Homo sapiens: one gene and its partners. The main gene of each other region encodes a partner of the protein of the gene in region 4 in a complex. Each region holds a gene or a part of one and is shown on either strand. Other genes may lie near its edges.

What was found.
Region 1: GPS2 (region 4) and HDAC3 share a complex: the UniProt entries of both Homo sapiens proteins name them as parts of the N-Cor repressor complex.
Region 2: GPS2 (region 4) and TBL1XR1 share a complex: the UniProt entries of both Homo sapiens proteins name them as parts of the N-Cor repressor complex.
Region 3: GPS2 (region 4) and CORO2A share a complex: the UniProt entries of both Homo sapiens proteins name them as parts of the N-Cor repressor complex.

What each region holds. Positions count from the first base shown.
Region 1 is NC_000005.10:141,626,839-141,633,859, reverse strand, and holds part of HDAC3 (histone deacetylase 3), read left to right. Parts: intron 1-3,734; coding exon 3,735-3,816; intron 3,817-3,943; coding exon 3,944-4,000; intron 4,001-4,120; coding exon 4,121-4,176; intron 4,177-4,553; coding exon 4,554-4,687; intron 4,688-5,220; coding exon 5,221-5,301; intron 5,302-5,647; exon of another isoform or gene 5,648-5,672; coding exon 5,673-5,746; intron 5,747-5,902; coding exon 5,903-5,967; intron 5,968-7,021. UniProt on the Homo sapiens protein: Histone deacetylase that catalyzes the deacetylation of lysine residues on the N-terminal part of the core histones (H2A, H2B, H3 and H4), and some other non-histone substrates.
Region 2 is NC_000003.12:177,194,469-177,202,279, forward strand, and holds the start of TBL1XR1 (F-box-like/WD repeat-containing protein TBL1XR1), read right to left. Parts: upstream 3,015-7,811; 5' UTR 2,653-3,014; intron 2,011-2,652; exon of another isoform or gene 1,872-2,010; intron 1-1,871. UniProt on the Homo sapiens protein: F-box-like protein involved in the recruitment of the ubiquitin/19S proteasome complex to nuclear receptor-regulated transcription units. Plays an essential role in transcription activation mediated by nuclear receptors.
Region 3 is NC_000009.12:98,182,627-98,189,647, reverse strand, and holds part of CORO2A (coronin-2A), read left to right. Parts: intron 1-3,958; exon of another isoform or gene 3,959-4,215; intron 4,216-7,021.
Region 4 is NC_000017.11:7,312,340-7,319,623, reverse strand, and holds GPS2 (G protein pathway suppressor 2), read left to right. Parts: upstream 1-4,263; 5' UTR 4,264-4,293; intron 4,294-4,504; 5' UTR 4,505-4,571; coding exon 4,572-4,665; intron 4,666-5,026; coding exon 5,027-5,136; intron 5,137-5,220; coding exon 5,221-5,333; intron 5,334-5,464; coding exon 5,465-5,544; intron 5,545-5,635; coding exon 5,636-5,718; intron 5,719-5,902; coding exon 5,903-6,056; intron 6,057-6,154; coding exon 6,155-6,244; intron 6,245-6,332; coding exon 6,333-6,412; intron 6,413-6,499; coding exon 6,500-6,595; intron 6,596-6,784; coding exon 6,785-6,868; 3' UTR 6,869-6,963; downstream 6,964-7,284. Other genes in the region: NEURL4 (neuralized-like protein 4), read left to right, coding at 416-574, 950-1,129, 1,268-1,355, 1,452-1,559, 1,692-1,836, 2,051-2,163, 2,254-2,419, 3,297-3,501. UniProt on the Homo sapiens protein: Key regulator of inflammation, lipid metabolism and mitochondrion homeostasis that acts by inhibiting the activity of the ubiquitin-conjugating enzyme UBE2N/Ubc13, thereby inhibiting 'Lys-63'-linked ubiquitination.

The DNA of each region.
Region 1 (7,021 bases), on a different chromosome or scaffold from region 4:
AATGGCCACTCTTTTTTTTTTTTTTTTTTTTTTTGAGACAGAGTCTCACTCTGTAGCCCAGGCTGGAGTGCAGTGGTGCAGTCTTGGCTCACTGCAACCTCTGCCTCCTGGGTTCAAGCGATTCTCATGCCTCAGACTCCCGAGTAGCTGGGATTACAGGCGCCTGCCACCATGCCTGGCTAATTTTTGTATGTTTAGTAGAGATGGGGTTTCACTATGTTGGTCAGGCTGGTTTTGAACTCCTGACCTCAGGTGATCCACCAGCCTCAGCCTCCAAAAGTGCTGGGATTACAGACGTGAGCCATCGCACCCAGCTGAGCAAGTGGCCACTCTTACTTCATCTATACTCCCTCATGTTAGATTGTTTTAAAGCAGATCCTAGATGTTATATCCTTTTATCCATAAATATTTTATTATGTATCTCTAAATGATACTCTTTTAAAAAAACATAGTATCATTATCAAACCTAAAAAGTTAACAGTGATTCCTTAATGTCATCAAATATGGGATCAATATTCAAATTTCTGCAGTTGTCTCATAATTATTTTGTAGCTAATTTAAATCCAGATCTAAACAAGGTCTATACAGTGCATTTGGTTGATATGTCTCTTAAGACTTTTAATTTGTAGCTTTTCTGTCACCCCCTTGAATTTATTTCTTGAAGAAACCAGGTTGTTGATCCTGTAGAATTTCTTATGATAGCTACCATTTACTGAGTGCTTACTCTGCTAGGTATTATGCCAAGGGTTGCTGGTAAATCCACTTAATTCTCATACCAATCCTTAGATGTATTATAATAGACCTTTTTCTGATGTTATATATAAGTAAATTGAGGTTTGGGAATATCTAGGTAACTTAGCCGTAGTCACATAACTGGTCATTGGAGGGGGCATGATCCAGATCCCGGGTTTTTAAACCACTAATCTGTTTTCCTGAAAGATCTTAATGACAGAAGCAGCCAGGGCTGTAGGATAGAGGCCAACTCATTAGGCTGGCATTGGCACCTTTCCAACTTTATCCCTACACCTCAGCTGCACAGGATGCCTTCCTGGAATGCCCTTAGTTCTCTATTCAACCTCTTCAAGGCCTTCTCAGCCTTCACACCATCTCCATGAAACCTTTCTTGACCACACCAGCCCATAGAGCTCTGTCTTGCACACACTGCACTGCTCATTTGGTGTTCAGTCACATGCTGTTTGGGGAGGTTTCTTGTTTTTTTGTTAGTATTCCTGCTGTTATTTCTGAGCTCACTTTCTAGCTCTGTGAATACAGGGTCAGCCCTTACGCCACACTGGGGTCCCGTAGATGCTCTTTGTGCGATTAGGGAATGCTAATTAGAATACTATCTCTGGGCTATTTATGCTGCATCAGTCTTCCTGTCAAACAAGTTACAGTTGTGCTTATCTGTATTTCCGATGAGAATCAGGAATTTTTCTTCTGTTTAATGAATTTCTGATTGGTTTCAAAGTATTCTAACATAAGTAGCCAAATTGTACTATAGGCCTTTAAATGAAAAAAATAAAAAAGTAGTCCCAAGCCGGGCGCAGTGGCTCACGCCTGTAATCCCAGCACTTTCGGAGGCCGAGGCGGGTGGACCACCTAAGGTCAGGAGTTCAAGACCAGCCTGGCCAACATGGTGAAACCCCATCTCTACTAAAAATACAAAAATTAGTCATGTGTGGTGGCACGTGCCTGTAGTCCCAGCTACTCCAGGAGGCTGAGGCAGGAGAATTGCTTGAACCCGGGAGTTGGAGGTTGCAGTGACCTGAGATTGCACCACTGCACTCCAGCCTGGGCAACAGAGTGAGACTCTGTCTTAAAAAAAAAAAAAAAAAAAAATTCCAGACCTCTCCTTTTCACCCATAAATCCCTCTGCCCAGTGACAGCCACTTTCAGCTCCTTTCCCCTATGTCTTCTGGTATTTACCTTTGGATTTCTAAATAATAATATTAATTGACTGTTATTACTAATCTGTAATCCTTAGGTAATACCTGTTATATACTAGGTACTGTTCTAAGTGCTTTACAGCCATTAGCTTATTTAATCTCAACAACCCCTATGAAGCAGGGTCTATTATTGTTTCCTTTTACCGATGAGGACACTTAAGCACAGAAAGGTTAAACAGTTTGTACAACCTCACTATCATTAGTAGGTGTTAAAGAACCTAGGTAGTCTAGCTCCAGAATCGGTGCTTGTAATCATACTCCCCTCCTGTATTGTCTCTCATTGCTATTTCTTCGTCTGTCAATTTTAGGCATTATCTGTTAAGCTTTTAGTATGGGATATGAGCATTTAGTCTTCTTACACCATCACATTGGCTTCCTTTCCCCTTTCAGCTTCATAGTAATTTAAAAATAAATCAGTATTCTGTGTTTACATTATTATAACTCTGAAAGATTCATTTACTATCAAGCCAAATAGTGTAGTGTGATTTAATCTATTTTCTTCTAAAGCTTTTTGTTTTTCCTGGAGCTGACAATTGCATTATTTTTTCATTTGCTTAGTTTTCTGGTATTAATCACTAATTCTTTCCAAGCCTTTTGAGAAACTATAAAACCCTACAATTCTTGCTTGAACCCGGGAGGCGGAGGCTGCAGTGAGCCGAGATCGCACCATTGCACCCCAGCCTGGGCGACAGAGCAAGACCCCATCTCAAAAAACAAACAAACAAAAAACCCCTACAGTTCTGTTTTTCACATGGTCAAATGTATCAGCTGCACTATTTTTTTTTTTTGAGACCTAAAACTAGGGATTGCCTAAGCCTTTCCTTTTTAAAAAGTCAGGTTTATATAGGTATAACTTGCATACAGTAAAATTAACCTTTTTTAGGTGTAAGAGTTCTGAGAGGTTTGATAGAATATATCAAGGTATAGGGCCAGCGCCGATGGCTCACACCTGTAGTCCCAACAATTTGGGAGGCCAAGGCGGGAGGATCACTTAGGCCCAGGAGTTTGAGACCAGCTTGGGCAACATAGTGAGACCCTGTCTCTACAAAAAAAAAAAAAAAAAAGGTATCAAGGTACAGGAAATTTCCACTACCCAACAAAGGTCACTCACCCTTTTGTAGTTAATAACTTCTCTGCAACCTAGATCCAGCCAACTACTGATAAGATGTCTGTCCTTGTATTTTACCTTTTCCAGAATGTTACATAAATGGAGTCATACAGTAAGTAGGCTTTTGTGTCTGGCTTCAAGCCTTTACTTTTTATAAAGAATAACAATGGTAATAATTATAGCTGACATTTATTAAAGGCTGAGCGGATACTGTATACTGTGCTACAGGCTTTTCGTGGGTTATCTCATCACTGTTTCACATATGTAGGTATACAGTTCTTTCTTTAAAATATGTGACTGAAAAATATTATTGAACATTATGCTAAAATTTGTTACACTGAGAAGACTAAGAAAAACAGAGCTCATGTTTTCTTTCAACTGATTTCCTTTTTACATTGTACTTGAGTACCTGGAAGCTGCTTGCTTCTTTCCGCAGCTAGGATACAAACTCCCTGACAGTTAAGTGCTTCTTTACTTCCCATCCAGTGCCTTGCACAGGGCTTGGTACATGGTTTGGTCCAAAATATTTGTTGAATAAATTTGCAGATAGCCCACGTGTGTAGGAGAGGGAGAGAAGGTTCTTGAAAAATGGAGATTGGAGGAATCTAGGATGGGGAGGGAGATATGGGAAGGGCCCAGACAGAGGCAGGAGGGTTCCAACTTGTTCCTCTTCCCTGCAGCCCAGTGTTTCCCGGGCTCTTTGAGTTCTGCTCGCGTTACACAGGCGCATCTCTGCAAGGAGCAACCCAGCTGAACAACAAGGTGACATAGTCCCGAGTCCTGTTCTTCCTTTCCTCTGGATCCCTGGACTCGGGATTTAACCCTGATCCTGGGCTCCCAGCTTGAGGGGTGGGCAGGAAGGACTGTGACTTAGGTGTTTGTCTTTCAGATCTGTGATATTGCCATTAACTGGGCTGGTGGTCTGCACCATGCCAAGAAGTTTGAGGTGAGTGAGGAGGTGATGGGAAAGACAGTGGCCATCCTAGGGTAGGTGTTTAGGATGATGGTGGGGGGCAGCTGGGAGGGGAATTGCTCTTCTCTTTATGAGACCACTGTCTTGCCATAGGCCTCTGGCTTCTGCTATGTCAACGACATTGTGATTGGCATCCTGGAGCTGCTCAAGTAAGTAGCCCAGGAGGAGATGGGGGCAGTTACGGGATTCTTGGCTGAGGAGGTCTCTCAGTCTCAACCCTGACCTTGACCTCCCTCCTCCCTGATTAGCTTCTCCCAAGTTCTTGATGCTTTATTCAGGCTGCCTCTTCCACTGCTGCAGATTCCCTACTGCCTGCTCACATTTCAGCCTTCTCTGCATATCCCTCTCCTGTCCCTGCCTCTAGCCTCTAGGCTGGAGCCCCCAGTTGCCTTTAGGGAACTGGTGACATTAAGTTTCAGGTGACCAGGGCAGAAGCAGACTCTTCACAATTCGAGACCCGGTGTTTGAGAGGAGTGGGTTGGGGGGTTCACTTCTAGCTCAGACCCTGGCTTTGGCTTCCCTCTAGGTACCACCCTCGGGTGCTCTACATTGACATTGACATCCACCATGGTGACGGGGTTCAAGAAGCTTTCTACCTCACTGACCGGGTCATGACGGTGTCCTTCCACAAATACGGAAATTACTTCTTCCCTGGCACAGGTATGGGAATAGGGATTACTTTCCCCTTTGCACCCTTCAGCTCTTTACTATGAGTGCCTCCTTCTCAGCCTTCTAGTCTCATCTCAGGTGTCCCCTCCTCAGAGAAGCCTTTCCTTACCACTCCAGTTATCATAATCACCTCCTTCCCCATTCCTCTGTTACATCAGCCTCATTGTTTCCCTCAGAACACTCACTGCTATTTGTGTTTATTGTGGTTTTTTGTTTTGTTTTGTTTACTGCCTCCCTCCTCCTCATGGCTATTCCCTAAGAATATAAGCGTGGTGGGATATCGTAAATTTCATTAGTTCCATTCGTTGCTGCATCCCTACTGCCTAGTACACAGTTGGCTCAGAGTGGATCCCCCAAAACTATTTGCCCAATGAATGCAAGCTGCAAGAGATTTAGTGGCTCTAGGGAGTTTATGGTGAAGCTACATAGATGGAATGAGAGGCTCCCAGAGTGCAGATTGGGGCTGAAACAGCTGGGTTGTGGGTGCTTCCCATGTGTGGCTACCACCACCCACTTCCCTACAGGTGACATGTATGAAGTCGGGGCAGAGAGTGGCCGCTACTACTGTCTGAACGTGCCCCTGCGGGATGGCATTGATGACCAGAGTAAGTACCGAAGTCTTCCCTCTGTTCCCTAGGCCCCTTCTTTTTCTCCTTGAAATAACCTCTTCTGCCTGGTATTGTCTGCTGTTGGGCCAGTTGTCCTTAAGGATGAATGGCCTTCAGAGGGACCATGAATCTCTGGAAATTGTATGCAACATATCATGTGTATGTGCATTTTTCTGGGAAAAGTCATTGGCTTTCATCAGTCACTCATAGCAGTCTGGGATCCCTTCCAGAAGTTTCAGACCAGTGATTTGATTCTTTTGGGTGGCCCCTTTCCTGGGCTACATGCTCGCTCAACCCCCTTTTTCCTTTTGTTCCCTGTCTCCCCATCCCCTTGGGGTGCCAGGTGCCCATCTTTGGCCCTCTCCCAGGTTACAAGCACCTTTTCCAGCCGGTTATCAACCAGGTAGTGGACTTCTACCAACCCACGTGCATTGTGCTCCAGGTAATACTGTCAGTTCCTCCTCAGGAGTGTTCTGCCTGGGCTTGGGGAAAGAGAGCAAGGGAAGAGGAGGTTCTTTAGGTTGGTGGTGGAAGGGGTATCTGTGATGTTCTGATCAGTTCTGATCACTGCACTTTCCTGGGGTTTTGCTTTTTGCAGTGTGGAGCTGACTCTCTGGGCTGTGATCGATTGGGCTGCTTTAACCTCAGCATCCGAGGGCATGGGTGAGACTTGCTCTCCTTCTTCTCCCCAAGGTTTTTAAGTGGCCTTGGACTTCAGTACGTGGGTGGGGGTAGTTGGGGAATGGGCCTCACCTCTTCTTGGAAATCAAAAATAGCTACAAATTGTACTTGAACTAGAAATGTCATCTTGAACAGGGTTCCCTAGATGGTCATTCATTCACGATATATTTTTATTAAGCACCTGTTATGTTCCAGGCATCATACCACATCATGGGGATGGAATAAGGAGTCTCCCATGGAGTTTACAGTTTAGGAAACAGACAAAAAATAAATAATCAAATGAAATAAATAGATTCTTATAAATTCTGTGAAAGAAAAAAAGAAAGCTGAGACACAGGATACAATGGGGGACCTACTTGAGATAGCATGGTTTCGGAAAGTTTTTCTGAGGAAGTAAAATTTGAGTTGAGACCTGGAGACTAAGAAGGAGTGAGTCATAAGAGGAGCAGAGAGAAGCCTGACCCAAGCATGGACAAAGGCCCACAAAAGGCTCTGAGGGCTGGGCCCAGTGGCACACACCTATAATCCCAACACTTCCAGAGGCCAAGGTGGGAGAATCGCCTGAGGCTAGGAGTTTGAGGCCAGCCTGGGCAACATAGTGAGAGCCATCTCTACAGAAAATAAAAAACAAAATCAGCTGGGCATGATGGTGCATGCCTATAGTCCTAGCTACTCAGGAAGCTGAGGCAGGAGGATCACTTGAGCCTAGGAGTTTGAGGTTACAGTGAACTATGATTGTGCCACTGGACTTCAGTCTGTTGAGGTGAGGTCCGAGAAGCTGGCCATGGTGAGATTGTGCAGAGCCTTTAAACCCTGGTAAGGAGTTTGAATTATATTCCAAAGATGATGGGAAACCATTGAAGGATTTTAAGCAGGAAAGTGACATGATCCAATTTGTGTTTGAAAGTGACAATTCTGACTGCTGAATAGAGAAAGGTTTGGGTAGGGGGGATGGAGATGGAAGTAGAAAGACCAGTTAGGAAGCCATGGTGTTGGTTAGGTGCCCAGACTAAGGTGGAGGGGGTGGCAATGGAGA
Region 2 (7,811 bases), on a different chromosome or scaffold from region 4:
AAATTGAACAAACCCAACAAATTATTTCAACCAACTTCATCAAAATGTGTCAAGTCAGGAATTCTTTATAATAGTACTGCTACAAGTTGTACTAGGGAGATTCCTTTGTCAGCTACTCGTCTGACAAGGTTGTATATATACTGCACTGATAGATTTAATCAACAAGTTGATGTTCAAAAGGTCTATTAATACATTTCCTTTTATCAGTACCCCTTATATTTATATTACCTTCTGTTAGCTTGAAAGGCTCCTAGAACACAGGAAGCAGTTACCTCTAATTCTTTCGGGAGACTGGTGTCATGGTAATCATGCAAAACCTTTAATTAGGTGTCGAGAATACAAATATCAAAAAGATTCTTAGACATACGTATTAAAATGCTTAACACTTCTTTGAAGCAACCAATGCAAAAATATCATCTCTGCAAGGGGTCACTCCATTTACCACCAGTGTCTCCCACATTAATACCCAAAGCTGGTATACGTTAAAAGAAAAATGTCATAAACTGACGGTGAGCTTTGCAACAATTTTTATGCCATTAACATGTCACTTTATTAAGTTCCTTAGCAATAAGAAAAACTTTTCCCAGGCACGTAGTTTTCGTCCCCCATACAGTTTAGTATTTTGTCCTGTAGGTCGGATTCCAACAACTCAAACGTCAAAAAAAATAGTAGTTATTTATGAATTTAATGATTGCGATTACATACATCTCAGTGCAGGATAGGGTTGAAAAAAAAAATCATATTCCAAACAAGAAAACCTGGATTTAAGAGCAAGAAGCCTAATCACACATCACACGCCTAACTGCTCTCAGGCATACTTTCTTCCTGCAGCCCCTCCCCCACAGGTAAATGCTAACTATTTCTAGAACTCTCAACTATTTGGGAAGCTTGCCATCAACTCCCATGATACCACCCAACCCACACCATGTTTTCGGGGAGACAAAGGTGCCCTACTTCCCCAGACTATAAACTATTAAAATGGTGAGAACATACAATCCCAGGAAGTCGGCATTACTAAAATACATCAATGTAGCATGGGTCTTATTTTAACAAAAATGAAAATGAATCACACTGGAAAACCCAAACAGTCACTCATTGTATCTTCAACGTGTAATCGAAATTATTTATTCCAAGTTATTTCAGGTAAGTAGATGAACACACCACGAGGGCCTTATTATCCAAACTGGTGAAGAAGCCTTTAGGAAAAACGGAGGGGGAAGATCACTTAATTATATGAGGTGGGGGGTAGAGCAACCATTCAGTCTTAAAATTCAAACTAAAAATAACCTGGCATTTTCACCCCCCACATTTTATTAACAAGCTTGTTTAGATCAGCATACGGTTCCTGTTTGGAAAACAAGAAAGTGAATAGTAAACTTTCCTAAGTCAACTGTAAATCACATAGGTACTAAAACTCTTCACCCCTGGTGCCTGCACAGTCCAAGATTTCAAGTAAACTCCAGACACTGAGAACACCTAATTTTTAACTAGTTTCCAACATTTCTCATTTGTAATCACCAAATTATCTTAGAGACACTTAGATAACCTAACAAAGAGAGCATTTTTTAAAAGCCACAACCCAAATTTTACATGAAATACACCATTTTCACAACCTAAATTTAATCCCGGTTGCCACTGCGAAGTGATGCCTGTTTCAGCAAATTAAGAACTTCCAAAAATACTGAACACGTTAACACATGCATGGCTTCCCTCGAGCTGCCATTTAAGATTAATATTCCACTTAAATAAAAGTCTGCTTCTGTTCAAAAAATTAAATCGGTTGCAAAGAGGAAGTTACCGAGAAACCACCCTCACAACGTGGCCTTTACACTGTCAGAAAATAACGTGACTCTGTGCCACCCAAAACTTACCAGGAAGCTGGCAATAACTTTGCCAATTCTACACTCCTGAACCCAACTTCAAAGAGCCTCCACCAAATACCTCCTTAAGACGATAAAAAGCACTAAGTTACAAATAAACACGTCCCGGAGCAAGGCCCGGCTGCCGCGCGCCCCTCCCCCGGCCGGCGCCCCCGCCCCGGACGCGCGGCCCCAACAGCCGCCCGCAGCCCCCAGCACGCCGGCCGGGGTCGCCGCGCCCGGGCCGGGGACGCGCCCGGGGAGGGGAGATTTCCATTGCCGCCCGAGGTTTCACAAAATAGCATGCACCGAAAAGCTCCTTCTCCTCTGCTAAAAATAGGCTATAAAGGAGTCGGCCTCATGATGGCTCCTTGATTCAATTTGCTGCAAATCCTTTCCTGAAAGCCTCCCCCCCCAAACACACACGCACAAAAAGGGGGTGTAAATGCACGAAGGGAGGAAGAGGGGGAGAAGGCCGAGGTGCACATTTTCGGGGACAACATAATTAGGGTGAGGATCCCCCGAGACCGGGAAAGGGTAGGGGGGTGGGCAGGCACGTGAGCATTTCAAAGAAACCTGAGAGAGGAAAACGGGGGGATGGGGGCGCCCCAAGTGCCCTCCCTGCCTTCCCTTCCCCCACGCAAGCCCAGTTCCCCCAAGGGCCAAGTTGAAAAATGCATGTTCCACTCGCGCCCATCCCCCCGCGGCCCAGCGCCCCCGGCCGCCTCTGGCCCGCGCCCCCCGCCCAGGCCCCCGGCCGCCCCCACTCCAGGGTCCGGCCCCCAGCGCTTACCTGGAAACGGTGGCCTCCAACGCCGCTCCCCCCTCCCGGGAATGGAGGCACAAGGAAATTCCCCTCCTCGCCGCCGCCGCCACCGCCTCCAACCACCCCCAAAATAACCCCTCCGGGGGGTGAGAGGCAATTATAACCCCAGCGAGCGGAGGGCGCGGGGGATGGGCGCCGGGCGGGCGGGGGCGGGGAGCGCGGCGCGGGTCCCCAGGTGGCGAGCGGAGGTGCTCCCGCCGCGGGGGGAGGGGCGGGGGCGCACGCGGCCGGCGGCGGGGGGAGGCGGCGCGCGGGGGAAGGGCGCGAGCGGGGAGAGGAATTGAGGCAGAAGGTAAAAGCTGTTACTAAGGGAAAGAGCCAAACGGTTCGGAGCAGCCAACGGCTCAGACACTCAACACTGGGGAGAGAGGAATGGGGACCAGCCAGGCACAAATGAGCTCGCGAGGCCCGCGGCGGCGGCGGCGGCGGCGGCCGCGCAGCAAAACAAACCCGAGCGGCCTGCGCCGGGCGGGCGGGCGAGCGGGCGGGCGGGCGCGCGGGGGAGGGGCCGGCGGGGGAGGGGCGCCGCGGACGCCGGGAGGCGGCGGCGGCGCGGCGGGGGGGCTCCAGCGGCCGCGCTCCTCTCCTTCCCGGCCCGCTCTGGCGGCACTGGGGGCTGGGCTGTGCGGCGCATTCTTTTAAAAATCAGGCGAGCCCCGCGGGCACTCGAAGGCGCCTCGGGGCCCCGGGCCGCCCGCCCCGCCCCCACCGCCGCGGGCCGGCCTGGGTGTGCTCGGGTGTGGGCCGCTGGGCCCGAGACGGGTGGGGGCGGGGAGGCCCGCGCGGTGGCCGGGGTGGAGCCGCCGGCGAAGTTTCCCCAAGGACGCCGCGGGCTCCCGCGTGTCCGGGGGGCGGCCCGGCGGCGTTGGGGGCTGGGCGCACACGCGGCGGGCATGTGGGGGAGTGCGGCGCGGCATCATATGGACATTTGTTTGTGAAAATCTCTGTGAACACCTTTGTGTGCGTAAATACATATGGTTCTCCGAAGCGTACCTGGAAAGGTGCTTTATCTGTAATAAGCGACTTTCAAAATGTGATCCAGAGCACGGGATCTGGAGAGAAAACACGCACACAAGAAAAGGTTTTTGATACTAAACACAAAGCTGTAATTGAAGTATTTATGCCCAAATGTACTGTGAATCAAGCATATGGTGGTATTTATCATCTGGTGGGTCTGTTTGAAAGGTTTGCTCGATCAGTTCTTATTTCACAAAAATAAAATAATGTAACTAAATGTTTACTAAATATATACCTGCACAGTGGCATCCACAGTAGAAGTTTATCCACTTTGTGTACTTTTTGCATGTGTGAAGCACAGCAAGGCGGTTTATAAAGTATAACTTAGATGAGTGATAATGTGGCAGTATGGTTGAGGGAGGGTTGTTTTTAAAGAAGGGAGGCACCTCACAGGTTTTAAAGCAAATGGGGTGGTAATCTTTCTAAGACTTTCAGAAAGATGGGGTAGGGTGCTTTTTAGAGCTTTGTATAAGCTCAGGACTGGAGAAGCAGCCACCCTTTTACATTAAGATACGACTTGAAACCTTTTTGTTATTTCGCTTATTACTGCCTTCAAAGCAAAATAATGTTTGCAGCTTTCTTAAAGGTGAAGGGTTCTGTTTTCCTACTTTCATCAGAATATTTGAAAATAGATGTAGTGATCACTTTAAAGCAACCATCATTTCCTCTCAATATCAGAAACCTGAAGTTTTGCGACACACACACACACACACACACACACACACACACACACACACTACTCGTAACTTGCACCAGTCTGGACTCCTGGTGGCCTAATAAGTTCAGTAATTAGACAGGTGCTTTCTTGGCCAAGGTCAATGTCTCTTTCCCCCCTGAGCCCTTGCTTGGGGGAGCTGCCAGAGGCCTTTCCTGAATGACCTAGTGGGGCAGGGAGCAGGAAAACCATCAGAGGAAAGGGAGTGGGATTGGAAACTCCCTTCCAACCACCAGAGAGTTCAAAGCATATTAGTGGTGTGTCCTTAGAGCTATTTTCATGTATGAAAGTGGGAATGTTGGATTAAACAATGTCACCCGATGGGAATTTAGATAACTGCAGGTTTCCAAAACACTATGCAGAGTGTACAGGGAAACCGCACAAAGCAAGTTTTGCATTTCAATAGGATTCTAAAGCTGAGGCTTGTTTACCTCAGAACTAACACCTTTCAGAAGACTTTATTTCAGAATTGAAAAGAGTATATAGTATCTTCCTTTTTTTTTTTTTGAGTTGATAAATGACGTAGATATCACTAAACATACCCTGTCTTCAGTAAGTAAACTATCTCGGTGGAGCCACTCAATGAAACATATCTATTGGCTTAGATTATTTTTTAAGTTTCATATTGTGCCACCACGGGCGGGTCCTCTCCATACAGCAGTGACTGTAAAATCAAACCCCACTTTCAGTGAGTGAGGACTTCTCAACCATACCATTCTTAAAGCGTCATATTCAAAGCTGCCCACCCCACCCCTTCTCCTTCCCCTAAATGACTTCTATCCCTTATTCCACAAGGGAGGAGACACCCTCCTTCAGGTTCATAGGATCAGGTCTTCCAGCCTGAAGTTCTTATACCCTACACCAAGCTGCCTCCTAAAGTTGTTCAGTGTTAGTTGAGCCTCCTCACAATGATAATAATCCATGCATTTGTTTATATCCCTGTAGTTTACAAGACATTTCTGTGCGTAAATGACTGCATTTAAATATGAAGATCATCGAGGCTGGGGACTTACAAATCCGTTGCAGTAAAATGTACTTTACTCACCACTGTTGGATCATACTAATTGAAGAGAGAGGAGAGAGCAGGAGTACATTTTTTTTTTTTAGGTGGAGTTTCGCTCTTGTCGCCCAGGCTAGAGTGCAATGGCGGAATGTCGGCTCACTGCAACCTCTGCCTCCCAGGTTCAAGCGATTCTCCTGTCTCAGCCTCCCGAGTAGTTGGGATTACAGGCATGCACCACCACGCCTGGCTAATTTTGTATTTTTAGTAGAGATGGGGTTTCTCCATGTTGGTCAGGCTCGTCTCAAACTCCCGACCTCAAGTCATCTGCCTGCCTCAGCCTCCCAAAGTGTTGGGATTACAGGCGTGAGCCACTGTGCCCGGCAGCCTGGAGTGTTTTTAAACAAACAAACAAAAATAGGGGCACCCAAATGTGGAAAGGCCTTGATTCTTCCAGCAAAGGGGGTTTTAAATCAGATCATATTTTGATCCCTTTGATTTTTATATTCTGGAAACTATCTGAAACAACAGTGTGGCTTCAATGTTAAATACTCAGAGAAATAAACCATCACTCAAAGGTCATATGTATTGTCGCCTCGCCCTCTAGCTGTCCCAACATATCCAGCATAAAGGATCAGGGCTGCACCAAAATACAAGCAATGATTAGACTCACTGGGTGAGGAAAGGACAAAGAAGGAACTATTGTTACTAATATTCAGTACTTTGTCCTAATCTAACACTCCCATTACACTTTGAATTAAATGTTAATGTGTTTCTAGAAAGGAGATATTACTGTATTACTAAGAAATTGTAAAGCAAAGGAACACATTAAGTTCTCCGCTGGGTGTGGTGGTTCACGCCTGTAATCCTAGCATTTTGGGAGGCTGAGGTGGGCAGATCACTTGAGGTCGGGAGTTCAAGACCAGCCTGGCCAACATGGTGAAACCTCGTCTGTACTAAAAATACAAAATATTAGTCGGGCGTGGTGGCGGGTGCCTGTAATCGCAGCTACTTGGGAGGCTGAGGCAGGAGAATCGCTTGAACCCTGGAGGCGGAGGTTGCAGTGAGCCGAGATAGTGCCACTGCACTCCAGCCTAGGCGACAGAGTGAGACTCCGTCTCAAAAAAAAAAAGTTCTCTCTTGAATTTTCTAGCTAATTACTCAATGAAGAGAAACCTCATACCAGTAACTGTTATCAGAAGTTACTATATATTGTAAAATGGCTAAACAAATCCTGACTTGTTTTGCCGGGTGCAGTGGCTCACACCTGTAATCCCAGCACTTTGGGAGGCCGAGGCGGGCGGATCACGAGGTCGGGAGTTCGAGACCAGCCTGACCAACATGGTGAAACCCCGTCTCTACTAAAAATTCAAAAATTAGCTGAGCGTGGTGGCACATGCCTGTAATCCTAGCTACTCAGGAGGCTGAGGCAGAAGAATGGCTTGAAACCGAGAGGGGGAGGTTGCAGTGAGCCGAGATCTTGCCATTGCACTCCAGCCTGGGCGGGTGACAGAGTGAGATTACATCTCAAAAAAAAAAAAAAAAAAAAAACAAATCCTGACTTGTTTTATTTCAGTAATATTTTTCCGAGAGGAGTGTGGCATGGCAAGATAGCCTACACATTTGCAACTTTCATCGCTAAAGACATGGAACATTTTAAATTGAAACTGCTTCAATCCCAGGACTACAGGGTCTCATTACTATATATATTTTTAAATCATCATGATGTTTTAAATTGTTTACATTAGCTCATCTACATAAAGTATTCAAAACAAACTTAATTGTATAAAAAAGACATTTGATACCAAAAATATTCTCCTAGTGCTATAACTCATTTTATATTCTTTACTCACCCTGGAATTCAGTGGCTTTACGTCTGTAGCGTTTACCCCCAGGCGTCTTGCTGATACTCTGTGATGTTTCCGTTTCATTTTGACTTACCTTGTGCAATTCTTTGTGGTTCTTCCGAGATGAGGCACATGCCAACCACACATCTCAAGATGTCAGTACACAAGCTGCTTTTCTCCTTCAGTGCATAGCGTGTTGCTTGTGACCTTTCCTCATCAGTGTGAACCTTGTCACAGTTTTCCATGCTTCTATGACCCAATTTCATTACAACAATAAACTTTACTTGAGAGTCTTCATTTAAATTGCAAAAGAAACATACAACTATCTTACAAGTATTTATGCCTCTCAGATAATGAAAATAGCAGGTTGTATCCTGCGATTGTGATTCAGTCAAAACAGAAAACCAACCACACACACAGCATGTTGCTGTACAATCACTTACTTATACTGACCAGCCACATACTTTCTCAGGGAAGCACTCAAGGCCTAGTATTATATTGATGGTTTTGCTATTCATTCAATGTTTATTGAATGTTTAGTGTGCCA
Region 3 (7,021 bases), on a different chromosome or scaffold from region 4:
CTGGACCTCACTTTCTCCATCTGTGAAATGGGGGTAGACTCAGCAGTTGCTGAATTTGTTTGAGCTCTGACAGCCAACCTCTTAGAGTGAACAAATCTCAGTAGCAAAGCCGAGATTGGAAGGAGATTCATTAAATGAATCCCCTTAGAGGCAGGTAGCTAGCTCCCCACCGAGGGGTTTCAGCCTTAAACCTTTGCTATTTCAAAATGGCCAGAAGCTGGATCGTTTTAGAAGTTGGTGTGTTTTTATCTTCTCTGCCAAATCTCAGGAGGTCCAGAAAATAATTCAGCAGAATCTTCTTGTGTTTTAAGTCTATAATCCATGCCTTGCCTCCTTCAGAACAGATTGGACGTGCTTTGCAATCACACCTGGTCTAAAGGGCCAGGAGTAGGTGACTTTGCTTCTGTGGTCAAACTGTGCCTCCTGGGGGTCTGCAGGCTGCTATGGGAAACTTACTAGGTTAAACCACATGAAACGGCCAGTATGTGACTTTTTTTGACTTACAAGAAATGGCAATTTCATTTGGTTCAGCCTAAATGGAAAAAGATATACAGGTATTTAAAGAGCGGTGTGCTCCTTACTATAATTGAGAGATTGGCAGGGTGTGGTGGGGACAAGGAAGGTGTGATTATGAGCTTGCAGAAGTCAAGGAGGAGGGACATGGGAGCCTCACTTTGAAGAATCACTAACAGTAATAATAATAGCTAACATTCATTGAGGGTTTACCGCCTGCCTAATTCTGTCCTAAGTGCTTTATGTTCATTCATTCCATTAGTCATTCAGCCAGTATTTATTAAGCACCTACATTGTACTAGTTTTTTTGTTTGTTTCTTTTGTTTTGTTTTTGTTGTTGTTTTTTGTTGTTGTTGTTGTTTTCTGAGACAGAGTCTCGCTCTGTCTCCCAGGCTGAAGTGCAGTGGCATGATCCCGGCTCACGGCAACCTCCGCCTCTGCCTCCTGGGTTCAAGTGATTCTCATGCCTCAGCCTCCTGAGTAGCTGGGATTACAGGTGCGTGCCACCACACCAGCTAGTTTTTGTATTTTCAGTAGAGACGGTGTTTCGCCATGTTGGCCAGGCTGGACTCGAACTCCTGACCTCAAATGATCCGCTTGTCTCGGCCTCCCAAAGTGCTGGGATTACAGATGTGAGCCAACACACCTGACCTGTACTAGGTATTTTCTAAGTGCTGGGGAAAGGGGGAAGGCGCTGATATTAAACAAAATAGACCAGAAAGATCTTCCCCCAAAGAGCTTACAATCAGATGGGGGGAAGACAGATGAAAAACAATAAATAAAATAGATGAATAGGTGATAAATAAAATCAGTGATAAATGAGGTGGAGCAAATAGAACATAGGAGGGGTTAGGGTGTGTGAGGGGGCAGTTTTAACTAGGGTGGGCTGGGGGCCTCATTGAGAAGGTGATTTTTAGGCAAAGGCTTGAAGGAGAGGGGTGAGTCAGGCTCATTTCTGGGGAAACAGCCATTCAGGTGGAGGGAACAGCTGGGGCAAAAGCCCTGAGGCAGGACCATGCCTGGCATGTTCAGAGAAGCACGAGCTGGGACAGAGTGATGGCGGGAGAAGAGGAAGAGAGGAGCAGGCAGGCCCTGGGCTAGACTGTGTACCCCACCATGCTCATAATGGAATCCTGCGAGTGTATGACGGAGCTACTCTTTTTATCCCGCTTTTCCAATTAAGAAAACAAAAATACAGAAAAGTTACATGGCTTATTGAAACTGTGTCTCATGGAGAATCTAGGACTTTCAGCCAGGGTCAGCGGGGAGCCATGGAAGGCTTTTGAATTGGGTAGGAACATGGCCAGATTTGAATATTGGTGTGATTCCTGCGAGATTGCTATGGTCTGAATATTTATGTTCCTCCAAAGCTCATATGTTGAAATCTTACCCCATAAGGTGATGGTATTAAGAGGTGGGGCTTTTGAGAGGGAATTAGGTCAGGAAGGCAGAGCCCTCATAATGGGATTAGTGTTCTTATAAAAGAGGCCCCAGAGAGACCCTCACCTCCTCCACCACATGAGGACACAGTAAGAAGGCGCCATTCTATGACCCAGGAAGTGGGCCCTCACCAGACTCCAAATCTGCTGTCTTAGTCTTGGACTTCCATCCTCCTGAACTGTGAGAAATACATTTCTATTGTTGATAAAGCACCTACATTTTTTTTTTTTTTTTTTGAGATGGAGTTTCGCCCAGCCGCCTAGGCTGGAGTGCAGTGGTGTGATCTTGGCTCACTGCAGCCACCGTCTCCCGGGTTCAAGTGATTCTCCCATCTCAGCCTCCTGAGTAGCTGGGATTATAGGTATCCGCCATCATGCCTGGCTAATTTTTTTTTTTTTTTTTTTTTTTTTTTGAGATGGAGTCTTGCTCTGTCGCCCAGGGTGGAGTGCAGCAGCACGATCTCGGCTCACTGCAAGCTCCACCTCCCGGGTTCATGCTATTCCCCTGCCTCAGCCTCCCCAGTAGCTGGGACTACAGGCGCCCACCACCACGCCCGGCTAATTTTGTTTTTGTGTTTTCAGTAGAGACGGGGTTTCACAGTGTTAGCCAGGATGGCCTCAATCTCCTGACCTCATGATCTGCCCCCCTCAGCCTCCCAAAGTGCTGGGATTACAGGCGTGAGCCACCGCGCCTGGCCAAAGCACCCAATTTATGATATTTTGTTGTAGCTGCAGCAACGGACGAAGACAGGTGCAGAGAGATGGCTGTAGAAATAGTCCAGGCCTGGAGTGCTGCTGTGGGACCTGGGCAGTGAGCTCAGTGCTAGGGGAGAGGTTGGGGTCCAGGCCAGGTGAGCAGGAGGAGGATGAGGAGGAAGCCAGGCTGACCCTGGGCTTATATATTTAACAAACACTTATTAGCACTTCTTACCACCATCTAATATTTTATATACGTTAACCCAATCCCCATAACAACCTATAGGGTACATACTGTTTGTTATTATTTCTCCCGTTTTAAAATGGATATATTATATGTAAATGATATCTCATGAAGTTAATTTACAAAGAAAATACATTTTTAAAATTATAAACACTTGATAATGGAGAATTTCAGAAAAAGGCAGGAAAACAGACAAAATAAATTACCCATATCTTCTCCTCTTCTCATCCCACATAATCAATATGAACATTTACTTTCAGTCTTTTTTGTACTATCATTCCCATTTTATAGATGACAACACTGAGCCCCAGGGAAGTTGGGTAGCTAGCCCAGGATCATACATTCAATCTATGTCATCTGCCACCAGTGTCCAGGGCTTAATCACCTTCCCCTGCTGCCTGTAGTCCATCCCTGGAATGTCAGAGTTGGTGGGTTCCATTAAGATACCATCCCCCAAACCTAGCCCCTCCCCCCGCCAGCCACCCCTCTCCTGGCATCATTTCACAGATAGGTAAAGTAAGGCCCAATAAGAGATGGGGCCTTGCTCAGCATCTGTCAGCCAGTCAGGAGCAGATAGGTGAAGTCTCATTCAAATAAGAAATCGGGAGCTGAGCATTTGTGCAGGGTTGATATGACAGCTGCTTCTAGCCTGGCCTTGAGCCTGGAGTTTGTAGGGGCCCTGGCAAATGGCATGACCCTGCCCACAGGCAGTGCAGGGGCAGGCGTGTGTTCCCTGGGCCCAAGAGTCTTGTCCCTCTAGCCAGCCCTGGGTGGGAGGTGAGTTTGGGGCTTTGCCCACACTGCAGGTCCCCTGAGAGTTGTCTCCTGTACTCTGACTGTGCATTTATTTCTGGCTCTGGTGCCAGCAAACTCCTGGGGCTGCCTGCTGCCAGGGATGCAGCCCTGGCTTCTAGCCCCATCTCAGACACTGAGTGGCCTTGGGCCAGGGTCTCTCCTGGCCCACCTGCAAAATGGCATCATAACGGCCCCAGCCACAGGATGAAGTAAGAAGTGCAAGGGAAGTTCTTGCACAGGGCGTGGTCTATGGCGTGCTCAATAACTGGGCAACTCCTGTGGCTGTTCCTAAGGCTGCACCACGGTGTTGGCCCAGGCTGGGGAATTGAGCCCACTGCAGACAGAGCCCCCTCCTGCCAACCTCCCTTTCACACCTGGCTGACCAGGTAGACCTGCCTGAGAAATCAGATACGAGCCTCCAGCAATGGTTTGGAGTCTAAGATTGCGGACAACAAGGGATGCAGTGGAGCAAAAGAACCCAGGCCTCTGAAGAAGGAGAGCTGACCCCGCTGCTGATATGCTCCTTAGGCAAGTCTTGACCCTTCTTTATGACTCAGTGTCCTCATCTGTAAAAGGGGAAGAATAATTCCTGCCTTAGTCATTGTAATGATCTTCACCCCAGCAACCACCTATTGATGTTTTTCTAATGCTTGGGGAGTGTGAATGCAGACAAGCTAGACCCATCACAGCCGTGAGGGCCCATGGCCTGGCAGGGGCACTACAGTTATCATAGGGAAGCCCAGGAGCTGTGGGGCCTCCAGGAGGGCACCTAACCCAGCCTGGGGTGGAAGTGGGGGGTCATGGAAGGCTCCCTAGAGGAGCTGATGCCTGAGCTGGGTTGTTAGTGTGATTTGGAGACGGCCAGACTATGAAGGGTAGAAAAATAAGGGAAGATATTGGGTCAGTCACTCCACTTCTCTAAGCGTCAGTTTCTTCATTTATAAAATGAGGATAATAAATACCTGTTCTGCCTAATGTATAAGCTTGTTGTAAGGCTCTAAATTGGATAAAAGTAAGGAGGCGCTTTATGAACTACAAAATGCCAGGCACCTACCTATTCATTATTCATTGTGATTTCTGGAGCCCCTAGGGGTTAGGGAAATATCAGGCCAGCATCTGGGGCTGGGAGAACTTTCAGTTGGTTTTGAAAGGGCTACAATCAAATCGGACAGAGACAGACAGCCGCCATTAACCACACACCCCTTGATTTAAGTGCTCTGGAGTATTTCTGTGCCTGGGTGTGGCTTTGTTTGGTGGGGTCCCCGAAGGCAGCCATGGCCCCATCACAGATCACAGCCCCACTCTGAGGATGAGGAGGAACAACGTCAGACCCAAAGCACTACGTCCCTGTAGAGGCCTGGGACCTGCCAGGGATAGGGATAGAGGACGGGAGCACTGTGGGGCCGCCATGAAGAAACCAGTCTGTTTAGAGAGAGGGCCACCATGTCACGGTAAGAGAAAGAGTAGTATGTGTGGAATGAGACTGTTTGGGTTTGGATATGAGAAAAGAATCTTTCCCTAGCATGCAGACATAGCAAAATATTCAGACAGACATCAAGCTAATTATCACTAGGTGGTAGAATTTTGTTTTCTTTGGTCTTTTCTACATTTAAAATGTTTTGGCTGGGCATGGTGGCTCCTCCTGGTAATCCCAGCACTTTGGGAAGCCAGGAGTTTGAGACCAGCCTGGGCAACAAAGTAAGACATTGCCTCTATTAAAAAAAAAAATAAAATAAAATAATTTTATACTTGATAGATAATTTATTTCTGTAAAGATTTTGGTGATATGTGTGCAGTCATTCCTAAATATTCAGCTTCCAGGACACCCAAGGATATCAAAATCTGTGGATATTCAAATCCCTGATATAAAATAGTATAGTGTTTACATGTAACCTACACACACCCTCCTGTATACTTTAAGTCATCTATAGATCACTTACAATGCCTAACACAATGTAAATGCTATGTAACTAGTTATTATACTGTATATACATATTTTTAAGACAGAGTCTTGCTGTGTCACCCAGGCTGGAGTGTAGTGGCACAATCTCAGCTCACTGCAAACTCCGCCTCCCGGGTTCAAGTGATTCTTGTGCCTCAGCCTCCCAAGTAGCTGGGATCACAGGCATGCACTACCACACCCAGCTAATTTTTTACATTTTTAGTAGAGATGGGGTTTCGCTATGTTGGCCAGGCTGGTCTCGAACTCTTGATCTCAAGTAATCTGCCCGCCTCAGCCTCCCAAAATACTGGGATTACAGGTGCAAGCCACCATGCCTGGCCCATTGTACTGTATTTTTAAATTTGTATTTTTTAATTGTTGTATTGTTATTTTTCCTTAATTTTTTCGAATATTTTCCATCTGAGGTTGGTTGAATCTACAGATGCAGGACCCACAGATACAGAGGGCCAACTATGTATGCAATACAAGTTATAATGATATTTAGATAATAAAATACTCAGGCCGGTCTGACATCAGCAGGCTGCAGGGATGAAGTCAGCACTCACAGCATAAGGACTTTGGTAAGGCCTGGATGACATCCCCAGTGCTGGCCTTCGGAACAGTTGGGAGCAGAGTCCAAGGATGGCTTGATGGAGTCACACTGGAGGAGATGTCTGTGGGGGTTTCTGAAGGTGGGAACTAGGACTCTTTTCTTGGGACAAAGACTTGGGGTTTTGGGTGGCTGCAAGCACAGTAGCATTGTGACCAAACTGTCCAACTGTGGAACCTACCACATCAGTAGCAACAGAGGGTTGGAGGCAGAGGTGAGGGTCCTGCTGAAGTTTGGGCCGCTTTCTGAGCAAGACTAGGACAGCTGAGACAGATCCAGAGGGGCGCCAGGCCGGGGAAGGGCCTGAGCCTTCAAATTCCGTGAAGCTCTGGAGATCCAGGGTGAATGCTAGGCCTCAATAGACCCTTGTCCCTTAACGATTTGTGTTCTTGGTCTTTGATCCCATCTCACAGGCGTTTCAGCCTCTTTGCAAGGGAAGTAAAGAATCTAAGCTACTGCGGTATTTCATTCAAGGCAGGGCTTATCTGTTGTGAGATGTACCCTTATTTTAGAATCCATTAAGAAAGAAAAAGCAACAGAAACTGTAAGTTGCATCCCAGTTTCAGAGATGTTAAAATGTAAAAAGCTGTCTTGGAATCATTTGACATGTGGCGGGTCCCCAATTAGACTCTTAGTGTGCATTCACTCATGGAATCTTCACCATCGCATTGTAGCTAGATAGTCTTGTCCTCTTTTTACAGATAAGGAGGCAGGAGCCCAGAGAGGTTGAGTAAATTTGCAAGGTCACGCAGCCAGCAAGAGGCAAAGCTGGGCTTTGAACC
Region 4 (7,284 bases):
GGTTCAAGCGATTCTTCTGCCTCAGCCTCCCAAGTAGCTGGGACTACAGGCATATGACACTACGCCCGGCTAATTTTGTATTTTTAGTAGAGACGGAGTTTCACCATGTTGGTCAGGCTGGTCTCAAACTCCTGACCTCAGGTGATCCACCCACCTCAGCCTCCCAAAGTGCTGGGATTACAGTGTGGGTCACCATGCCCGGCTGGCGGTTCTTTTTTTTAAAAAAAAAAAAAAAAAAAAAAAAAAAAAGAGGGAAAGAAACAACTAAATTAGCGTTTTCTGGTCCTTCCAAGCATAAGAAAAGGCAGCATCCCAGGCCACATTCTGGGAGGTGCAGTATTCCCTCTCTGGCTGGGGTGCGGAGCCTGGTTCTTCCCAGGAGGCTGTGATTATGGAGTAGTTCTTTCTTCCCCAGGTGCGGATAGATTTCCTAAACCGACAGTGGACATCTTCCCTTGTCCTGGGAGTCATCACCTGCGCGCCTGAGAGGCTCAACTTCCCTGCTTCTGCCTGTGCCCTCAAACGGGCAGCCTGGCTGCTGCGGGGCCGTGGGGTCTTCCACAACGGTCTCAAGGTGAGTAGGAGCCAGAGAGAAGGAACAGGACCAGGCCTGTGAGTAGAGAAGGGCTGGCCAGAAGGGAGAAGTGGGCCCCTAGCCTTGGAGGTAGGACCACAGGTGTAAAAGGGGAACAGTAATGGGCAGGCAAGGGCGAGTAGCATTGCCTGGTCAGTCTTAGGCCTGCTGCTTCCTGCGGTGTCCCTGCCATTGAGAATGTGCCAGTTTTGGGGAAGGGGAGGGGCTCTAGGTAACTGCAGTGGGAGGAGAACCTCGGCAGTGGGCAAGCATGGAGGCAAAGCCAAGGCACTGGCAAAAGGAAGCAGAGCAAAGGGCGGGACAGCTGCCGCGGTGGAGTCTGACCTCTGGAAGACAGCCGGTCTCTCCTCCCAGATCTGCGAGAAGTTTGGGCCCAATCTGGACACGTGCCCTGAAGGCACCATCCTGGGACTGCGGCTGGACAGCTCTGGGGGGCTGCATCTTCATGTTAATGGGGTGGACCAGGGGGTAGCTGTGCCAGATGTGCCCCAGCCCTGCCATGCGCTTGTGGACCTCTATGGGCAGTGTGAGCAGGTTAGTGGCAGTGGGGGCAGGGAGGAGGGGTGCCTGAGAGTCTGCGCTGTCCAGGACAGGGGAAATCTCTGTTCCAGGGAGGGATCAGCAGGCCCTGGGGTCTGACCAAGCTCTGTCTGACTACCCTCTCCCCTGCAGGTGACAATCGTGAACCCTGAGCCAGGGGCTGCCAGTGGGAAAAGTGCTGGAACCCAAGGGGACATGGAGAAAGCAGACATGGTGGACGGTGTGCCAGCCCAAAGGGACCCAGCTCCTGCCCCTACTCCCCCACCCTCACCCTTCTAGCCCAGCTCCTGTGACCTGTGCCCCTCTGCTCCCTCAGGTATCAAAGAGAGTGTGTGCTGGGGTCCACCACCTGCCGCTAGTCCTCTAAAGAGCTGCGAGTACCATGCCCTTTGCTCTCGCTTCCAAGAACTCCTGCTGCTTCCCGGTGAGTCCCACAGTCCGCCAGAACTGACTTCATTCCCAGGGCCAGGCCTAGAGCCTTGGAGAGCAGCTGGAGGGTGCCACTGTGGTTGAGGTGGGAGCCACAGCACCAAGCCTGCTACTCACTGTCCCGCAGAAGATTATTTCATGCCTCCGCCAAAGCGAAGCCTGTGCTACTGTGAGTCTTGCCGGAAGCTGCGAGGAGACGAGGCCCACAGGCGCAGAGGGGAGCCTCCCCGGGAATATGCACTGCCCTTTGGCTGGTGCAGGTTCAACCTCAGGTACATATGGGCAAGGTCATGCCTTTCCCCTACTGTTTTCCCCCTGGAGAAACGGGGATCCCAAGAGGGTGCATGGAAGAAGTAATAGAACTTCCTGTCTAAGGAAAAGCCAGGAAGTGCCAGGGACTTCCTGTCTAAGGAAGAGCCTCGTGAAGCTCCTCCACTGGGGAGTCAGTGGCCTTCGTTGTATCTGCCCCGCTTGTCCACCTCCTAGAGTGAATCCCCGCCTGGAGGCTGGGACACTAACCAAGAAGTGGCACATGGCATATCACGGGAGCAATGTTGCCGCTGTACGGAGAGTGCTGGACCGAGGGGAGCTGGGAGCAGGTACTGGCGAGTAGGCCCATGCAAGGTGGGCTGAGCCTGGGGGGCTGTGGAGGAATAAAAAGGGCTATCCTGACCCAGTTCTCCTCCCAGGTACTGCCTCCATCCTGAGCTGCCGTCCTTTGAAGGGAGAACCTGGGGTAGGGTTCGAGGAGCCTGGCGAGAACTGTGCACCTCCTCGGGAGGAGCAGCCCCCTCCTGTGCTGCTTTCCCCCTCCCTTCAATATGCTGGGGCGGAGACCCTGGCCTCCAAAGTGCAGTGAGTACTGGGAGGGGTGGGGAGAGATTTCCAGGGGCTCGGATGGAGAGGGCCCAAGCGCAGCCACTGGGGTCTTCATGATTCGCCCTCCCCTTTTCTCATCTCGTCTTGCTAGCTGCCAGTCTCCAACTCAGCCCTTTCTTCATTCATTGAACAAATACTACTTATATACTCTTCTAGTGGGCAAAAAAAGGAACCTTGCTCTTGTGGAACTTCTGCCTTTTCTCTCTACAATGTTCATACGTAATAAGTATTATTTATTTATTTATTTTTATTTTTATTTTTTTTGAGACGGAGTCCTGCTCTGTCACCCAGGCTGGAGTGCAGTGGCGTGATCTCACTGCAACCTCCACCTCCTGGGTTCAAGCGATTCTCCTGCCTCAGCCTCCTGAGTAGCTGGGACTACAGGCACGCACCACCAAGCCCGGATAATTTTTGTATTTTTAGTAGAGACGGGGTTTCGCCATGTTGGCCAGGATGGTCTCGATCTCCTGACCTCGTGATCCGCCCACCTCGGCCTCCCAAAGGGCTGGGACAGGCGTGAGCCACCGCGCCCCGCCAGTATTTAGTATTTTTAAAGGTAATAAGTAAGGACTATGGAAACAGAGAAAGAATGGGGCGGAGACAGCAGTGCGGTTGGTGTGGACATCCTAAGAAGGTGGGAGAGATTCGAGCAAAGGCTTGAAGAAGGAAGTGAAGGGTGTAGCTGAGCAGGCTTTGGGAGGAAGAGCATTTCAGGTAGAACAGCTAGAGCGAAGTTCCCATAAGGTGGGAGTATTTCCTAGGTACAGCAAGGCTTGTGTGGTTGGAACAGACTTTGCAAGGGGGAGGTGATGGGGCGAGAGGCTTCACTCCCTTATTTTTTCTTGTCTGACAGATTCCGGGACCCCAAATCCCAGCGGACGCACCAGGCTCAGGTGGCGTTCCAGGTGTGTGTGCGCCCTGGCTCCTACACCCCGGGACCCCCTTCCGCTGCCCTTGGAGAACCTCCTGACCCTCACTTCAGTCCAGCCGAACTTGAGTGGGTCACTAAGGAGAAGGGGGCCACACTCCTCTGTGCCCTGCTGGTACGGGTGGAATGAGGGGTGAGACACCACTACTACAAGCACAGTCGGGCCGCGGGCCCATGGACTCTGAGTGGCGACTGCCTCCACCTCATTCCCGTGACTCGTGGCATGCGCAGGTGCTGGAGCTTGGCAGCCGCGCAGGAGCATGTAGGCAGGCTCTCAGATGTAGGTGGCAAGTGGCACAGCTCCATGTCCGGAGGCCCAGCACTCCGTCTGATGGGAGGAGTCGTGGGAGCCCAGCTCCAGGCCCTGGTACCCCTCTTCATGCACTGATTTGGGGAACATGACTCCCTTTTACTCCCCTACCCCACATCACTTAATTTATTTCCGTTTTTGTTTCTGGTTACTGTGAATCCCAGAGGAGTCTCTCCCTGTGCCCACATGAAGCTGCTTTTTCCGGGGCCACCGGGCGGGAGTGGGGAAGGGTGGGCGCACGGAAGATGGGGGCCTCTGTACAGTTGTTACTGACTCTGATTTCTAAGGAGCCAATAAACACCGTCTCAGAGCCTCCGCCTCGGCCTCTCTCTCGCGCGCCCCTCTCCGGAGCCCGCGTCCCCTGGGGTGCCACCAGGTGGGCCCGCGAAATTAAAGAGAGCTGAGGATGCCAAGGCCAGTCTGCAGCCGTCGTCGCTCACGTTCCCGGCGACGGGGTTTGTACGCCGCGGGCACCCGTCGCAGCGCGCTTCCGCCTTCTTTCACCTGTGAGGTCGGCCGCCGCCGTGACTCCGGAAGGACTCGGCCGGGCCGCCGGATGTGACGCAGGGGCCAGGGCGCGTCGGAGCCGCTGAGAAAGCGCAGAGAAGGCGGGTAGGAAGGGCAGTCGTCCGCGCTGGCTGGGCAGGGAGCGGCAGCAGCGAGCCGGGGACCCCGGCGCCGCCCGCGCGCGGTGGGACTGGGGCTGCGGTCCCGGCCGGGTGGCGGGCTCCTGGGACACGTGACCGGGGCGGCGAGCGGGCCGGGCGGACGGGCTTCCGCCTGGGCCGGGCGCGGCCCCCTCTGAGCGCCCGCCTCCCCGCAGGCCCCGTCTGAGGTCTGGCAGTCAGAGACAGCCGGGCGCCCACGGCCCGAGCGCCCACGGCAGCACCATGCCCGCACTCCTGGAGCGCCCCAAGCTTTCCAACGCCATGGCCAGGGCGCTGCACCGGCACATTATGATGGAGCGGGAGCGCAAGCGGCAGGGTGAGCCGGGGCCATAGCAGGGGGACGCACGGCCCAGAATGGCTCCTGTACCTCAAGGCTGGCCTCAACCCACCGGCCAACCAGCGCGCCCGCTGCCGAGCGCAGAGGAGGGAAGGAATAGCCCCGTTGTGGTGGGATTTAAGCGTCCTGTTCCACGCTCCAGAACCCTTGAGATGGGAAGGACCTTGGAGAGCACCTGATAAAGCCTTTCCGTTCCCTATTGCCGCGATGGGGAGCTTGTCCCCTCGAGGCAAAGAGCATACAGGCGTGTTGGGATGACTGGGTTTTGCTGGTCTTCAATCTGTAACGTTGGAATTGTTTTCACTACCCTGCCTCTTCTTCATTCTGCCTGATTCTCCAGAGGAAGAAGAGGTGGATAAGATGATGGAACAGAAGATGAAGGAAGAACAGGAGAGAAGGAAGAAAAAGGAGATGGAAGAGAGAATGTCATTAGAGGAGACCAAGGAACAAGTAAGCAGTCCCTTGAACTTTCCCAGCTTTGATTTCTTCGTTTGACTCTCCCTGCCTTCATCTTCTTTTCCCACCCCATCCCAGATTCTGAAGTTGGAGGAGAAGCTTTTGGCTCTACAGGAAGAGAAGCACCAGCTTTTCCTGCAGCTCAAGAAAGTTTTACATGAGGAAGAAAAACGGAGGCGAAAGGAACAGAGGTGGGATCAGAGTGCTAAAAACTGAAATGGGGGCCAAGTGGAACTGGGATCAGGTAGTAAAAGAACCAGTGTTTAATGGCAAAAGAGAAGGCATCTGTCCTTGACTTTGACCTGTCTTCCTTTCACTCCAGTGACCTGACCACCCTAACATCAGCTGCATACCAGCAGAGCCTGACTGTTCACACAGGAACTCATCTCCTCAGCATGCAGGGTGAGGACTAAAGAAACCACCAGATGGAACCGGCCTTCTTGGAGGTCACAGCCTCCCATTTCAGCATCATGAAGCCCTTCTCCCTTTCTAGGGAGCCCTGGAGGACACAATCGCCCAGGCACCCTCATGGCAGCTGACAGAGCCAAACAAATGTTTGGACCCCAAGTGCTTACGGTGAGAGTAGGATTGGATGCCTAGCCCCTAGTACTTCCATCCATGCATCCTTGCCACCAGTATTCAAGTCACAAACATATCAAGCACTTAAGTTTAGGGGGAAACGGGGCATACAGATACACACAAGTCACTGGGTTTCAGCTTTCAAGGAGTTTGTAGGCGAGTTCTCATTCTCCTTCCTTAGACCCGGCACTACGTGGGCTCAGCAGCTGCTTTTGCAGGGACACCAGAGCATGGACAATTCCAAGGCAGTCCTGGTGGTGCCTATGGGACTGCTCAGCCCCCACCTCACTATGGGCCCACACAGCCAGCTTATAGTCCTAGTCAGCAGCTCAGAGGTGAGTAATAGGAGGGATGGGGCTTGGCCTTCCTCAAGGTCAAAGGAGGAATGCCATTCAGTAAAAGATTTTAATGGCTCTGTCTTTTCCTTTCTCAGCTCCTTCGGCATTCCCTGCAGTGCAGTACCTATCTCAGCCACAGCCACAGCCCTATGCTGTGCATGGCCACTTTCAGCCCACTCAGACAGGTGATAACATCCCATGCAGGAGCTCTAGCTCTCAGGTCCTCCCCTCCCTGTTTCATTCTCATCTCACATGCCCCTCTTCCCCACCTAGGTTTCCTCCAGCCTGGTGGTGCCCTGTCCTTGCAAAAGCAGATGGAACATGCTAACCAGCAGACTGGCTTCTCCGACTCAGTGAGTATGGCACCTTGGGAGGTCAGGGTTAGGGATATGTTAAGGGGAGCTTCAGTATGCCTCAGGCCCTGACTCTGTTCTCTGCAGTCCTCTCTGCGCCCCATGCACCCCCAGGCTCTGCATCCAGCCCCTGGACTCCTTGCTTCCCCCCAGCTCCCTGTGCAGATGCAGCCAGCAGGAAAGGTAAGAATGGTAATAGAATTTACCTGTCAGAATCCCTACACTAGGGATCCGGAAAAGCAGGATTAGGTAGGACAGGTGGCCCACATCATCTGGTTTTTCCTTCCTCTTTGGGGGTGGTTATCAGTAGGGTATTAAGTGGAAGGGAGAGTATGCCCAGTGACAAAGCCCTCTTTTCATCACCACCACCAGTCGGGCTTTGCAGCTACCAGCCAACCTGGCCCTCGGCTCCCCTTCATCCAACACAGCCAGAACCCGCGATTCTACCACAAGTGACCATCAGATTATATCTTCAACACCACACCCCCCACCCCATCGTGGGTGAGGGTATCCCCTGTGTGTCCCAGGCCAATAAAATCTACCTGCCACTGCCCCTGGCTGCTGCTGTTTGTGTTGCCTCCCACCCAACTGTCTGGAATAGGTCAAGGTTGCTTGGAGGGTGGGGGGATGGCTGGCAGGTCCACAGCAAGTCAAAGTGATAGACAGCGGGTTCCAGTGAACTCAGTGGCAGAGTTCAGTCTTTTTGTGGCTTCCAAATACACCCATTTAATTCAAATAAGCAGCTGAGTTGGGGGCTTCATATTAAACTTGTAGTTTTATTCAGGTTTGATTTTAACAAATGTGTCGGGGAGAGAGCCCGCAGGGAAGGGTAAAGCCCATGGGGGCAGGGCCCTCCCAGATGCCTGAGGAGG